2 separate regions of the Homo sapiens genome follow, and region 2 is linked to region 1. The links come from fine-mapping of genetic effects on gene expression. A gene starts in region 1. The other region holds a variant in brackets. All regions are shown on one strand. Distances are from middle to middle.

Region 1 (4,395 bases):
CTCCTGACCTCAAGTGATCCACCCTCCCTGGCCTCCCAAAGTGCTGGGAAACAGGCATGAGCCGCCACACGCGGTGGAGAGTTAATTTTATGTGTCAACTTGACTGGACCACAGGATGCCCAGATACCTGGTTAATCGGTATTACTGAGTGTCTGCGGGGGCACTAAGTAAAAGAGATTATCCTCACCAATGTGGGTGGGCATCATCTTATCCATTCGGGTCTGAATAAAACAAAAAGGTAGAGGAAGGGAGGATTCACTCTCTCTCTGCTAGATTCTTGAACTGAATCTTTGATCTTTTCCTGCCCTTGGTGATCCTGGTTTGCAAGACTTCAAACTCGAACTGGAATCTACACCATTGGCTCCCCAGTTATCAGGGCTTCAAACTACAATATGGGCTTTCTGGATCTTCAGCTTGCAGACAGCAGATTATGCAGCTTCTCAACCCCTATAATCACGTGAGCTAATAGATAGCTAGATACAGATGTAGGTATAGATATAGATAAATAGATACCTATTTGTTCTGTTTCTCTGGAGAACCCCGACTAATACAGTGCATATAATGAAATTATTAAGACTCCCAGCCTCCTTCCTGCATTGGGCTCCAAGAAGTCTGTATATTCTCAAAGTGAGTAATTAGAAGATTACTCTCTAGAAGAAAATAAACAGCTGGTTCTTTCCCCATCATCTTACACCTTGTCCAGCAGTAAACAAGCCTTGCCTATGTCCCCAAAGCACCTTTTTAGAGCCTCATTTTTACATATAAATTGACAGCAAGGATCACCACACAAGATGAAGAATGCCTCTAGCAGAAACAACAGGAACCAAATGTAAACAAACAAACAACCAAAAAAGACTCAAAAGAATCAAAGTCAATGCAGAGTTACGTAGAAAGCATTTTTAAAAACGCTATAATTGACATCTTCAGAGATAAAAGGAGCTATATTCATGAAAAATAATGTAATGCTATAAAAGAACAGAGAATAAAAAGAGCACTGAGAAATAAAGGTATAATACAGAAATTAAGTAATTAATCTTTATTAAGTATAATAAAGAAATTAAGTAATTGTCCAATTAAGTTGAGAAAGTCACAGAGAAAGTAGAATAAAAATATGAAGACATAGAAAATAGGACAGACAGGTAAGAAAAAACATCAGCCAAGAAGGTCCACGATCTAAATAACAAATTTCAAAAAAGAAGAGATACGATGGGGGGTGGGGGGGAAGAAATGATCAAATAAATAATACCAGAAGAATTCCCATAACTGAAGAACATGTGTTTCAGGATTGAAAAACTGGTCGATAGGAATGAGAAAAGACCCATAACCAAGACACTCAATAGTGTTTTAGAACACTGGGAATAGGCCGGACGCGGTGGCTCACACCCGTCATCCCAGCACTTTGGGAGGCCGAGGAGGGCGGATCACGAGGTCAGGAGATCGAGACCATCCTGGCTAACACGGTGAAACCCCGTCTCTACTAAAAATACAAAAAAAAAAAAAATTAGCTGGGCGTGGTGGCGGGCGCCTGTAGTCCCAGCTACTCCGGAGGCTGAGGTAGGAGAACGGTGTGAACCCGGGAGGTGGAGCTTGCAGTGAGCTGAGGTGGCACCACTGCACTCCAGCCTGGGCAACAGAGCGAGACTCCGTCTCAAAAAAAACAAAACAAAACAAAACAAAACAAAAAACACTGGAAACAGAGAAAAGATCCTAAAGCTTCTTGAGACAAAACAAAACAGAAAGGAAAGCAGGTTACATATCAAGAAATTTAGTGACCTGTGAAGGAGAAGGAAATATAACGACATAGTTTCTTAACAATTCTGGAAGCTAAAATATTGCGGAGCAAGCCCTCCAATATTCCGAGTGAAAGTTATTTTCAACCTAGAACTGTGCTCAGCCAGAATAAAAACATTTCCAGACATGCACACTCTGTGGGAAAAAAGACCTGGCAGCAACCTCTCTCAAGGAACTATTGGCGGATATGTTCCACAACATGAGGGTATATAATCAAGAAAAAGGAACACCCAGATTGAGGAAATAGAGAACTCATCTCAGGAATGAGGAATAAGACCTTCCCAGGATGGATGTGAAGGAGGTCCAAGGACATCAGTTGAGAGTTGTGCCTTCCAAATTTTATGTGCATAGGAATTACCAGGGGATCTTGTTGCGATGCAGATATTGATTCAGTAAGTCTGGGTAAGGCCTGAGATTTGGCGTTTTAACAAATTCCCTCAGGATGCTGAGGCCGCTGGTTCAGGGACTACACTTTGCATATCAGCGGTGTAGAGGAAAAACAGTCCAAATTGTACCAAGAAGACGACGGTACAGAGACAGAGACCGACAGACATTTATTTCCTTCTTGGAGACAATCGGGAATGAATTAGTGTAAGCCAATAACCGTACAGTAGGGTAGGGAGAGGGATGGAGGAGAAGGAGAAAAGGATTAATATTTTAAGTAAATATAAATGAAGAAAAAACAAGGAAGGGGCTGTATTGAGAACAGCCGCATACATCCAACCTTGCCTCTAGTAGACACCTGAAGAGGAAGGTTGGACCACTCTAAGGATTCAGATTCAGTAGTCTGGGGGGTCTCTGGAGCGACCCTGGAAGATGCTCCAGAAAGCCTAGATGCAGACTACGCTGACAGAAGACGCTCCTTGCACGCGCCCAGCACGGGAGTGGGCGGGGCCTCAACGCGTCCGGTGCCAGGTCTCAGGGGGCGGGGAATGGGCGGAGCCTTTCCCCTAAATTGGCGAGCCCGGGCGGCGCTGAAATTCGGCTTGGAGGCTTTTGAACCCGGAAGCGGTTGGCGGCGCTCGGAAGCGGCCGCGGATCGGGGAATTCTGCTGGCGCTGCAGCTGCAGAATGGTCGGCGGTGGCGGGAAGCGCAGGCCCGGCGGAGAGGGGCCGCAGGTACTGCCGGAAAGGCTGTGCGGGCTACGCGGGGCGCTTTGGGTGACAGCCAGGGCACCAGGAGGCAGCGCTTTTCATTCATCCAGTGACTATTAAGCTTGCTGTGTGTCCAGGGGCTGCGGTTTGCTGCGGGGATCCTGCCCAGGGCCGCTGTTTCGCGCTCTGCAGGGGGTTGGACCAGGAAAGTAGCTCCTCTGCATCTTCTGCCCAGCTCCTCTTGGAGCATTTCCTGGGGAAACGGATTAAGCCAACCAATGGTTCATTCGCCCAGCCAGATTGATTGGGAACCGATTACATACCTGACATTCTGTGGGGCGCTGCGGATTTGGGGGTCAACCTGCTTGCTCCTGCTGCTTGTTGAGCCCTCGGCCTGGGGAGGAGGGGCACAAGCAAATATGCATTCTACTGTGACTTTTTTGTTTGGGATTATAACGCTGGTGTGTAGAAAGTGCTATGGAAACACTGAAGGAGGATTTAACAAGTCCCAGGGGGTGTTAAAGAAGACTTTTAAGACAACTCTTTGAAAATTGGTTTTGAAGGCAGAGAAGTAAGATTCTGAGACATAAAACTGTAGGAGATGTTTGGGCGTAGCGGAGCGTTCGGCTTGGCTGGAGCCAGGGAAATGGGAAAATAAGAGGGACCTGATCATAAAAGCACTACTGAGAGGGGAGGAGGAGAGAGTGTGTGCATTCTCATACTTTACTACGATTTCGGAAGTTCTGTAACCACTACAGTAGCAATAAGGGGAATCAGGAAAGAAGTGCCATTGTGATAACTAAAGTTTTAGAAAAGTTACTCTGGTAGTGTCATAAATCGGACAGGGTGAGACATTCTTAGAGGGCTTAACTAACTGTTAAAGGGCCATCGGTATAGGCATCCTTCATATTGGGTCATGCATTCTAGGAAGACCAGGGTAAAGAAGAAGTGTAGCCTCTGAAGGGGACAGCTGTTCTAAATCCTAGTTGTTAGGGCTATGGAGATGCTGAACTAGTGTGTGAGTAAAGGCACAGCTGAAAAAATTCTCTTTTTGAAGGTGCAGTGAAGAACTGCTTTGGTGGAGTGATGTGCTTAACTAGAAATACAATAACAGAAATGAAGATGAGTCTGTAGAGACTATAACCGTAATGGCCAGCATTTGTATATTATGTGCTAGGACCGTTCTGTGTATTTTTACATATAATAACATTCCTTGTAACAACCCCGATATAGGCACTGTATGCCCTTTTTGCAGATGAGAAAACAAAGCACAGAGAGGTTAAGTAACTTGCCTAAGGTTGGAAATCAGTAGAGTCAGGAGTCAACCCAGGCAACCTAACTATTATGCAAAACTGCCTTTCAGCAAGGCAGATTAAGCCTTTTCTAACATCTTAAGTTGGAGCCAGTCTTTGAACGTCTGAACAAAGACAGTTATGAAAACAGAAGATAGGATAGCTCAGGACTTCATATGTTCCTACTGTTCTATATTTGATGTTGGAGAAGCAGCAT
Region 2 (4,395 bases), 580 kb after region 1:
CCATGACCTCATCCCCTGTGGTTCCACTCTCATACTAACCAAACCTAATTACCTTCCAAAGGTCCCACCTCCAAATACTCTCGCACTGGTTAGGGTTTCAATTTATGAATTGGGGGATGGGGGGAGAGGGAAGATACAAATAGTGCAAAATGCATTAAGTGTGTACAACTTGCCTCAGGTATGGATATAGGCCTGTGATTCTCTGTTGAACAAGACAGTTTTTTTAGAGCTTATGGTCTAGTGGTTTTGGGTGGGTCGGTGCCTAGTCATGATAAATGTCATGAAGAAAACGAGCAGGGTAGAAAGTTCAGGGTGAGGAAGTTGTGTTGGGTGCTGGTTGGGTTGAGGCTATTGTGGGATAATCAGGGAAGCCTTCTGAGATGACATTAGAGCAGAGACCTGAATGATGATTAGGAATAAGCCTGTAAAGAATATTCTAAGCAGAAGGAAAAGTAAGAGAAGGATCCTGAGGCAGGGAAGAGCCTGGAGTGGTCAAGAAGCAACAACAAGGCCAGTGTAGCAGGAGTAGGATGTAGGGATGGGAGAAGAATTGGAGAGGGAGCCAGAGAGGTTAGCCGGGACCAGATGATAGAAAGCCTTGGGAGCCACAGGAAGGAGTTTGTATTTCAAGTGGGAGGGAAAGCCGTTCTGAGGTTAACAGGCAAGACTGTGGATAATAGGTGCTAGGGTGTTAATAGTGGCAATACAGATGGTGTTGATCTGGCTTGGGCTGGTAGCAGTAGAAATTGTCAGAAGTGGACTGACTGGGGGTTGTTCTGAAGTCAAAGCTGGCAGACTTGCTGATGCATTAAGTGGATGTGCAATGTGAAAGAATGGGAACGGAGGCATCATGGTGAAGCCCAGTCTTTTGGCCCAAGCAACGAGGTGAACAGTGGGCTATTTACCAACATTGGGGAAAACTGGTAGAGGATCAGATTTTCATGGGGGTAGGTGGAAACCAAGAGGTCTGTTTTGGACACGTTGATTTGTGGATGCCTATTAGATATTCAACAGGAGATGTGAAGTAGGCCCTTGGTGCGCAGGGGAGAGGTTATAGCTGAGGTTAGATCTGGGAGACATCGTTGTGTAGATCCACAGTTCTTAGCGCTTCATATGAGAGTCACTAAGGAGCTTTTCAAAATCCGTATGCTTCTGACCCAGCCCCAGAGATTTTTATTTAATTGGTTTGGGGTGGGGCTTTAGAAAACTTTAAAAGAAGAAGAAAAAATGACTCCCTAGTTGATCCTAATATGCAGTCAGGGTTGAGAATGGCTTGTGTAAATGGTTTTAAAAGAAGGAAATAGATGAGATCATCTTGGGAGTAAATTTAGTTAGAAAAGAGCAAATGTCAGAAGATGGAGCAATTGAGAAAGAAAAACACCCAAAGGAGATTGGGAAGGAGATTGATACTGGATTCCCCTTTTACTCAAAGTGTGGCTCCCTGGGCAGCATCAGTATCACCTGAGACTGTTAGAAATGCAGTCTCTCTTGCCCCACCCAGAGGTACTGAATCAGACTATGTATGCATTTAACAGGAAGTCCAGGTGATTCGTGCCCTCATTAAAGCTTGAAAAGCACCAGTTTTGGCCTGGCATGATGGCTCACGCCAATAATCCCTGCACTTTGGGAGGCTGAGGCGGGAGGATTGCTTGAGTCTTAAGAATTTGAGAGCAGCCTAGGCAACATAGAGAGACCCTACCCCTACAAAACATACAAAAATTAGCCAGGTATGCTGGTACGTGCCTGTAGTCACAGCTTTCGAGGGGCTGAAGAGAGAGGATCACTTCAGCCCGGAGGTCGGGGCTGCAGTGAGCCATGATTGCGCCACTGCACTCTAGCCTGGGTGACAGAGTGAGACCCTGTCTCAAGAAAAGCATTGGTTTTTATTGTGTTATCAGGATGGGGCTGCTTCAGGTATGAATTCAGTCACCATATATATATATATATA[A/TATATATAA]CTCAGGAAATTACAATTGAAGAACTAGCATTAGCCGTATCCTTAAAGTCAGGTATTTGGTAGTGGTGGTGTGTGGGTAGGGTGATCTTATTTTTCTAAAAGACTTGGTGAGAAAGAGGGTAATAGCCATATTCTTTTAAACATTTAAAAATCTTGTCTCTGATTAATGAAGTTTTCATAACCAAGGTTCTAAGACATGGCCAACTTGCTACCCCTCCTCTTTAAAAGTAGCTTATTAAAAAAAAAGGTAGCTTGTAAATGGTTAGATAGTGGTTTCCACATATTTCACAAGCTCAGTAAGCTAACCCCTCTCAAATTAAGGGAAGGTATTTAGGCTTTTATTGTTTTCTCCAGAGCTAACATGTGTAACCCTCCAGACCCCAGGATCTACAGCGCCTCAGGATCACCAGCTCCTCAGACACAAACACTTAAGGTGAAATCATACTAATTGAATCACAAGGTCTTGCAGAAGCAGGGAGCATGATTGTAGTGACAATTTATATCTTGTTTTTCATTTCCTCAATCACTGGACTTACTGTGTTCTTTTGCTACTTTTTTTTTTTTAATCCCAGAAAAAACTTAGCACAGCAAGCTTGTATTTATTATAAGACATACAGTCTGAATAACAAGGGGGCACGGTGGGAGTTTTACTAATGTCATATTAATATTTTGTTAAGGTGCCTGAGTCAATTATTTGGTGCAACTGAATATCTTAATCAGGAATGGTCAGGAGCAAGTAGGAGTGGGATTAGGTGGATGAGCAGGGACAATAGTAAGGGTCCATCTAGATTTGCTTCTTTTCTTTTAAAAGTTGATCTACTATGTGGTTGGCGAAGAAAAATACAGAAGGCTTCAATTGCATTTATAATGCTTTATTTCTCAAGTCAGTTTGTGGATACAGTGGATTATCTTTTTTATTATTACTCCTCTTTGTATATCTTAATTATTTAGTAAACAAGATACTCTATTTATAGCAAGTGTATTAGAATTTCACACACTTTTTCTTACACATTTTAGTTTTAGAGTAATATCTGTTCATGATAGAAAATACATAACCTCAAAGAAGATTCTAAAATAGAGAGCAAGAGTGTCCCTCTCTCTTCTCTCCTACCCTAGTCCTGCTTTCCAGGGGTAAGTGCTATTACTGTTTTCTATTCTTTAGTTCTACTGGTTACCATTACATCCCACCTTCTTCGCTTGCTTTGTTCTAGCCGCGCTGGCAGCCAATTGGTGGGTCTTTCTCTCCCAGCCCAAATGTCAGTCAAATGTCAGTCTCCTCTGGCAACACCCTCACCCCTGCCAGCCAACAATACCTTAGCAACCATCTAGGCATCCCTCAATCTGATCAAGTTGACACCTAATGTGAACCATAATAGTTGACCCCTTGTCAACTTAGCCCCATACACATCTCCTTAAATCATACTTAATCTCCAAATAAAAACAATAAGGTCATAATTACACCTAACATAATACAACTATATTTTGTACAACTGAAAATGCCCTAATCCTTAACCTAAATGCTATTATATAAAGTTAATGACATTTAAATGCTGATATGAAGTCAATAAATCTCATGTTACATGATAAAGGAAGAAGAAAGGAAGTAAAACGAAGATATTTTCTGAGTACAGGTATATCCATGTACGGGCATATTCTTAAAATAAGGAGGAATTACTCATGATAGTACAGTCCTCCTTTCTGTAACTGGACACATGGTTTTAGCCAGTATTGATAACTGCCTTCTTCTACTACTCATTCTGTATTCCCTTTGCCTTCAGCAAGCAACTGAGCTGGTCGTGGCTTTTTACCTGGTGGGGTGACCCAAGCCTTCAATAATATGTTTTCAGCTCTTGCTTTCTTAGGCTCATACAGTATCAATTTCAGAGTGGAAAATTTAGAGTACTTCTACCTCCCACCTTCCTTTAAGCCTAACTCTTGGTTTTAGTTCAGTGTATTGTTATTTTGATATTGTCAGAGTTTATAACATTCTATTCTGTAGCTGTAATTAATTCCCCAAGTCCCATAAAAATAGCATTTGCAGTATTATGATTATATAAACATGATTCACTGCAGTGCGGATGGAGAAGAAGCAGATATAACCTTTCACCAGACCCTGCCCCACCTCTAGATCCAGTGGATCTTTTTAAAATTTCATTTTCTTCATCTCTTCTAGATCATATTGAGCCATCCACATTTCTTGTATCACATTTCATTTCTCTAGGAGTCTTCTGTGGTTTTTTGTGAGGGGAATATTGTAGGCTGGGAGATACTTCCTTGCATAATTGTTATAGTTTTCACTTGAAAGGCACAGGTAATAAAGTTTCTGAGATTTGGGGTGTTCAAAAATAATCAGTATTTTGTTCAGACACATATTTAACAGTTTAGCTGGCCAAGTTCTTCTAAATCATGCTCCCTTAGAAATGTAAAGCCTTTTTTCTGCTGTCTAC

What was found. PIP is the estimated chance that this variant, and not a neighbour inherited with it, causes the effect. A credible set is the group of variants that fine-mapping cannot tell apart.
Region 2: its variant is the best candidate, but not a certain one, in a credible set for the expression of HPF1 in whole blood (INTERVAL, PIP 0.80).

Annotation. Positions count from the first base shown.
Region 1 is chr4:169,756,345-169,760,739 of GRCh38, reverse strand. HPF1 (histone PARylation factor 1) reads left to right here and starts at 2,796. Exons shown (of 8, transcript NM_017867.3): 1 at 2,796-2,910. The coding sequence starts at 2,863. LOC107986240 (a long non-coding RNA gene) reads right to left here and starts at 2,677. Exons shown (of 3, transcript XR_001741529.2): 1 at 2,516-2,677. RefSeq lists an enhancer at 2,879-2,948.
Region 2 is chr4:169,171,553-169,175,947 of GRCh38, reverse strand. All of the region lies in intron 2 of SH3RF1 (SH3 domain containing ring finger 1), which reads left to right. Among named protein-coding and RNA genes, the nearest start is that of SH3RF1, 97 kb to the left of the region's middle. The variant A/TATATATAA (reference allele first, on the strand shown) is at 1,949.